Linked DNA regions of Homo sapiens. The protein of the gene in region 2 interacts with the protein of the main gene of each other region in a biochemical or structural test. Each region holds a gene or a part of one and is shown on either strand. Other genes may lie near its edges. The genes, in order: MRAS and RASSF5.

Region 1 (3,046 bases), on a different chromosome or scaffold from region 2:
ATACCTAGCACCCAGACCAATGCCTAGCATATGGTAGTGCCCAATAAATATTTGTGGAAAGAATGAATGGGCAGGAAGACAGGCCTGAGTGGTCCACCATATCACCTCTCTCCCCAGTCTGCAGTCTAGCCTTCTCTGCCTCCAGCCCAGAGGGCATAAGAAGCATCCTCCAGCACCCAGGCTTACATGTTTCAGCTAGAGTTGCCCAAAGAGCTACCAAGAGAGGGTTTTGGCTTGTACTCCCTGGAAAACGGAGCCTGAGAGATTCAGCTTGGTCAAGTACCCGCCCTATTTAATCAACAAAAATGAAATCACATTGTGCCAAAGACTGTAACCCTAAGGATGGGGGAAGAGGGCAGTTTCTATGAAAAGGAATGTCAGGCAGATAATCCAATAGGTGTCCTGGACAAAGAGCACTGTTTCTGGGCTCCTCACCACACTCCTACATTAGCTTTAGTCCTCCAGCTACTTTGAAGTGCACATTAGTGTCCCATTCACAGGCAAGGCAGCTCAAGACTAAGGCAGGTCATTTGCCCAAAGGCATACAAAGGTCGGTAGTAGGGCTAAAATCCAGATCTGCCCAGTATCAAGAGGTAGTGCCTCTAAATGCTGTGCTAGCCTGCCTTCATCCTCCAGCTCCATGCAGGAAGGAGACACCCCACGGCCACCAGTGGGCTCCTCCTTACTTCAGATCTGGTTAGCACCAAGGTCATGCTCTGTAAGACGTGGATGTTCTGGGCAAAACACCAACAACTCACAATGTTCTCAGCAAAACTTCAGGAATACTGGAGTAAAAGGAACTAAGACAGATACGTGTTTCTCTTCTTTATTAATCAGTCGAGAGATACAAAGACTTAATAAAAAGTTACACAGAAGGTTCAAACATCACTGAGATCTTCAGGCATCACTCGTTTCACGACAATGGCCACCTGTTAAGACTATGAAACAGAAGCTGGGCGCTCACAGGCGCACAATAATTCAAGTATCTTTCATTCCAAGTAAACCCGACATGGAATTTCAAACACAATGGGCTGCCAATGGAGGGAACCTGTCTGTGGCTCCAGATTTGCTGTAACATGTCTGAGGGGCCTTTGGGTTAAAGTTGCCACGTTAGTGGGTCATGTCTCCTGGAAAAGTGAGACAGGCCCCACGAGGCCAGCCAGGCATTTTCCACAGCAAGTGCCATGAGAAGGAGGTGGGCAAAGTCCTAAGAGAAACCATCCAGGTGTCCCGAGTGGCAAAGTGCACAGGTAGTAAGTGGCCATTGTCCCCAGCCGTGGGAGTGGAGAGGATGGCTAGGATTATCTCTGGAAAAAAAAGAGCAGCCCTCTAAGGAGGGTGTCAAACAGTGGAAGAAATCTGAGAGCACACAATGGCAAAGGCATGGGGTGAGGGCATTTCAGGAAGGCTGTGCTCCAGGGGATGTGAGGGTAGCACTATTCTCCGGAAGACCAACGGGAACATGAGGATGTCAAACAGCCAGAAGTCCCAGTTGGCTCCTCGGTCATGGTGTGGCGTGGCCAACCAGGTTTCCCAGTCTGACCCTGCTAGATGATAATGGAGGAGAAGATGGAGGGATGTCACGGGGCACACTCTACACTCTACTCTGGCCTATCTGGAAGCTACCTCAGTCATGAGGGCCCACTTCTACAAATGGGGCATTATTTACCCATTTCATTTATGGGGAAATGAGTTCATGGGAGATGAAAGCTTACCAGAGGCTCAACAGCAGAGGATACAGAAGACCAACCCTTAACTAGTCTCTCTCAGGCACCATGGAGTTCAACGTGGGCCAAGTGCAGGATGGATGAACAGATGCACTGTCCCTTCTGTCCCAACTGTGTGGTTGAAATCCCTATGTCTTCTCACCTTTATGGCCGAGGTCTCTGTTCTACATCAGCTGATCTGCTTCCAGTGAGACTATCAAACTCAGTGCTGTCGAGGAGTTGCAGCTCCACGGTGGGCATGGGGTATGCTCGTAGTGGTTGGTGCCCAGCAGGAGTTTTCTGGCTGTGGACACTGCCCTGTGTGCAGGGCTTCTTCTCCTACTCCGCCATGCTCTTGATTCTGAGCATCTCCATCCTTACTCCTTCCTACCTGCCTTTCCTCCGCCTCACCTCCAGTTTGCAGCTGCCATCAAACTGCACACAACAAACTGCTGCAGATACCACTTAGGGAAGCATAAGGATTGGGAAGAGCTTTGTCCTTTTAGTGTTTAAAATACCTCTTAACACTATAGGGTCTAAGGAAACTTTGAAGTGCCTCACCTGGAATGTTCTCTCTTATCCTTCCTTTTAGGAACAGAAAAAGGGGCAATTTAGACAAATAAGAAGTTTGATTTCCAACAAGCAAAAGTCTCAACTGTCTCCTTTTGTAGCAGAATCATTCTCCAGCTGGGCCCCTCAGTGCTGGTGATCTTGCCGAGGTAGGAACACAGCACATTTTCAGAACCCGGGTGTCTTGGCATCCAGTTGGGTGCTCACTTTCCTTGGGTTTCTTTCTCCAGAGTGGCCAGGCCACCTGCTGAGGATATTCTAGTTTGCATAGTGACCTGATTTGTAACATCTAGAAAATAAGGTCACCAGCTGTGCTGCCTTTTATTCTGACCTTTTCTTTGGTGCAGCGTTGTTCCTGTTGTCTCTCCACTCCCACCCCAGCTGGAAAAACTCCAGTCTTTGGCTCACACCAGCAGCACCTGAGGTGGGGGGGCGGGGGTGAGCATCATCAGGGAGCTGGGGAGACTGCCCCCTTGCAGAAGGTATATGAGAGCCACACATCAGCCCAGCCTTCCTTACTTCTCAGATCATTTTATAGTCAAGATTCAACAGGTCAATAAAAATTGCCAAAAAGGCAACCTAGTACTACTTTTACAAATACTGGAAGGGGTCTGCTCATTGACTAGGCTTATAGAGGTGGTAGTCAGTTGACTCCAAGGGAAGATGGCTTCAGGTCTTGGTGCTGTTTTAGTGATAACAGTATTGAATCATTTTTGGTTAAGATCCAGCATGAACTGGAGTTTTCTGGATGGTGTCCACATTAGGTTACT
Region 2 (3,818 bases):
GTTTGTTGACAAAGATGTGACTAAGTACCACACATACGCAGATATATGCCTTTGGGTTTCCATGTGCAATGTGGGCCAGGGCCAGAGCCAGGGCCAGGGCAGGCTGCAGCTTCTCTGGAGATCTCTGAGCCAGCCTCAGCTTTGGTGCTCCTTACCCTGAGCATCTGGGGCCAGTAGCTTTATAAACTTCCCTTAAGTGTGAACAACAGGCACCTTGGGGCCGCGGGAACAGTCCTTTTATGAGCATTACCCTGCTTTCAGGGGCTTAGCTCAGACCTGCAAAAGGAATGTGCTACAACTTTTCACTCATAAATAATGGTCCTGTACGTGGCAAGTAAGAGAACTCAAAGAGGAATCAATGCCAGAGAAAGAACACACAGCTCTAAAACCTTTCTTCCTTCCTTTGCCGGCTGGTGTGAGGTTCCAGTTTGGTGACGAGAGAGGCAACTATTTGGTTGGTGAAAGGCTTGCAGATCGAGAGAGGACGTCAGCTGTTTGTTTCACATGAGTTCTGATCCTTGGCAGAATCTGTGGTGGGGCACAGCCTGGGGGCGGGCACAGCTGAACCCTCGTGCAAACACTTGTCCATGGAAGAGACTTTTGCCACAGCTGGAACTGCTGGGCAGGCACAAATGCACCTGCCAGAGATGTCCTGAGAAAAAGTGTCTGTTGCAAAATAATAATTAATAATACAAATAAATCTGAATGCACCAGGAGGAGAGGAAGCAGGACCGGTTACCCAGGTTTGCCCTGGGATTCTCTTAAGGCCTCCTCCAGTTTCTGCCTAAACTTGTCATACTTCTTTTGCACTTGTTGGATTTTGTCCTGCTCCTCTTTTTCCAGGATTGTTAGGAAGTTCTGAAGTTCAGGGATGGAGAAGGCATCCCACTGTGAGGCGAGAGGGAGATTTGTGGGAAGAAACAGAATAGGAGACAGGTTAGAAGTTGACACGACCTGAGAGACCCTGCTGCCTTCCCCTTCCCAGTTCACATCCGTGATTCACACACAGTTTGCTACTGAACAGACTGAATCAGCGAAGCCTGGGCTTTGCATGCCTGTCATAGCAGCAACAAAATTCCAAATGCTGGCATCTCATGACCAAGAGTTGCCAGTCTATGAACCATGTTTTTATTTTGAAACTCAATAATCTTAAGTTTCTGTGTAGCAGCCGAGATCTTGACAGTGATGCTGGAACCACCCAGCCTCCCAACATGCAGACCCTCAGAAAGCAGGTGGAGGAGTGGAACGTGGACTCAGGAGACCGGGGTTGGGCCTGACTCCACCTCTCCCAGCAGTGTGACCTCGAGCACAGCTTTCCACCCTTCTCAGCCTGTTATCTGCTGGGAAATTGGGGTATCTACCTCCCATGACTGGCAGAGCAGATAATGAGAGCCTGACTGGCCCAGGCCTACCCCTAAAGGACTTGGCCTCTGATGGCAGAAGGCAATTTGGACTTCCATCAGGCTGACCCAAGAGCACAAGCCCTGTGCGGCCAACAATTGAGACTCCTAAGCTCTTTGAGCACAATAGAGTACTAAGGTTTATCTGGTTTGGTCCTCGCTATGGATAAGTGAGAAACCTCAAGTCCACACAGGGAAGGTGGCGTAATCACAATCACAGAGCTCATTGCAGCAGAACTGGAACTAGAGCCCAGGTCTCCACACTTCAAAGTGCCTGAGCTTTCCACAGGGCCAGCAGCATTCAGCTACTGTCCATGGAGTACTTTTTCCAAACATATTCTGCACAGATGCCAATAAAGAAAGCAGATGGGAGCAGAGCGGCCCTTGCTGAAATGGGGAGAAGGGACAGAGTCCCAGCTGCCTTGATCCCTAAATCTCCGCAGTGACTCCCAAAACTCCTTAAAACTCTAGGCCTCCACTGAACACAGTGTGACAAACACTGAGACCTTCCCCTGTTGGTCATTCTCAGGCCATGGGTGGCACCGGCCTGGTTTTACTCCAGTTTATGCCACAAGACTACACACTGGTTAGCTCCCCTTGGGGGATGGAGGTCAAGAAAAGGGAGGACAAATGGCTCAAAAACGTCTATACCCAGTGGAGCCCAGAGATGGAGCTTGGTAGCCCTCGGGCCATTTTGAAGCAAAAACAGCCTGTGCCTGAGCACAGGGAGTTTCTTGGTCCCCCTCCTCCCTGAGTTTTCAGAAATAAAGCACATGAAATCCTTTCTTTCCACAGGCCTTGCCACACACAGGCCCTAATGTGCTACCCCAGGGTGTTCAGAGTCCTGGCTGAAACACTGACCCCCAGGCCCATCACCCACCCCTGCTCACTCTCTCAACAGTCACCTTCCTGCCCGTGCTGCGTGGCTCCCACCTATGTGAGGTAGTTAGGACAACACCCACCTGCACCCACCCAGGGTGCCCTAAGGCCTGGGTTTGCACAATGGGTCCAGACCTACCTCTACCTCTCCAGTTTCATTCTCCTTTAGCACAAAGCTGAGGACCTCCGTGTCAGGCCCAGCAAGCAGGCGCAGGTAGAGGGGGCGGTCAGCAATGGAGAGTTTCTGGAAGAGCACTGCAAACCAAGAGAGGGTGCTGGGAGCTCTTCCCAGAAAAGAAGGGCGGGGCCCAGGCTTGCGGGAAAGGATTGGAAATGCAGAGGTGGGGTACGTACAACTGGAAGTAGACACGGGCCTTTTAATGAAATGAACATGACAGTAATGAACAGGGCAATAACCTTTTATCTTGGGTGTCTGCTCAGAGTTTAAAGCATGATTCCATTCACATCATCTCCTGAAAGATTAGGAATGGTGGGGCAGATTCCTCCCATTGCACAGATCAGGAAATGGGAGCCTAGGGTGTGGTTTTCCTGAAGTCACATGCAGAGTCAGGGACTCTGCTCTTGCCTCCCTGCCCGGATTCCACAGATCTGAACACCACATGGGCAGCTGGACCCCTGGTGCTCAGGAGAAGCCCACAGCTCCCACCCAAGGCCGGCAGGAGTTTTAGTGGGTGGGCTTGGACACAGGTAGGAAGGGAACGGTCTGGTTGGGTTCACTCTTTCTCCTACCTTGTCCGTCCTTGTGTATCCGCTTAAAAAGTGCAAACTTCTGGGGATTGTCCACAACCATGAACTTCTTGAGCAGCCCCTGGATGACCTCACTGACGGTGGTGGTGCTGCTGATGTGCAGCTGCTTGATGGCATCTAGGGGCAGGTAGAAGGATGTCCGCTTGTCCGTGGTAGCCGCCAGGTTCACCTCCTTGATGGCATCATAGATGGACTGGGGCCGGATCCCAGCAGGCACCGTCACAGGCCGCCGGAGTTTCAGATGCACTTTGATGAAACCCGTGTAGGTGCCGTCTTCACTCTGCCAGCGGGGGCATGTCACAGGGGGTCAGGGCCGTCCGCCTTGCATGATCATATCTGCCACTCGGGGCCATTGCCCCAGCAGCACCCACCTGTCTCCTTGAGTTCTTTCCTGCCTCTGCTGACGTGGGAGAGCTGGAGGAAGGAGCAGAGATCCCTTTCCCCATAGTGGGCTGGGAGAAGACCCTCAGGATCCAGCTACCAAAGAGGACCTGTGGGGCTGCAGTGGATTTCCCTCCCAGGAGGCTCAGGCCAGCTCCCTAAACCTCCTGTAACCAGTTGCCTTTGGTGAGTGCCCATTGTAAGAGGCAGGGTGTGGGGTAGCCACTCTAGTTTGTACCTCTGAACCAGGCAGGAAGCAGGAAGGCTCTATAATGAGGGCCTTGGAGAACCAGCCCACTAGATTTCCTCCTGTATCTCTTTACTAAGAAACAGCCTTTAAGACTTAAACCTAGGTGCATTTGTGACTGGATTTTCTGGTGCTCCATCTGG

What was found.
Region 1: the proteins of RASSF5 (region 2) and MRAS form a complex in vitro, tested with the Homo sapiens proteins (one study listed by BioGRID).

What each region holds. Positions count from the first base shown.
Region 1 is NC_000003.12:138,403,300-138,406,345, reverse strand, and holds the end of MRAS (ras-related protein M-Ras isoform 1 precursor), read right to left. Parts: 3' UTR 813-3,046; downstream 1-812. UniProt on the Homo sapiens protein: Signal transducer in the Ras-MAPK signaling pathway that regulates cell proliferation and survival. Core component of the SHOC2-MRAS-PP1c (SMP) holophosphatase complex that regulates the MAPK pathway activation.
Region 2 is NC_000001.11:206,583,896-206,587,713, reverse strand, and holds part of RASSF5 (ras association domain-containing protein 5), read right to left. Parts: intron 3,328-3,818; coding exon 3,030-3,327; intron 2,535-3,029; coding exon 2,419-2,534; intron 889-2,418; coding exon 736-888; 3' UTR 1-735. UniProt on the Homo sapiens protein: Potential tumor suppressor. Seems to be involved in lymphocyte adhesion by linking RAP1A activation upon T-cell receptor or chemokine stimulation to integrin activation.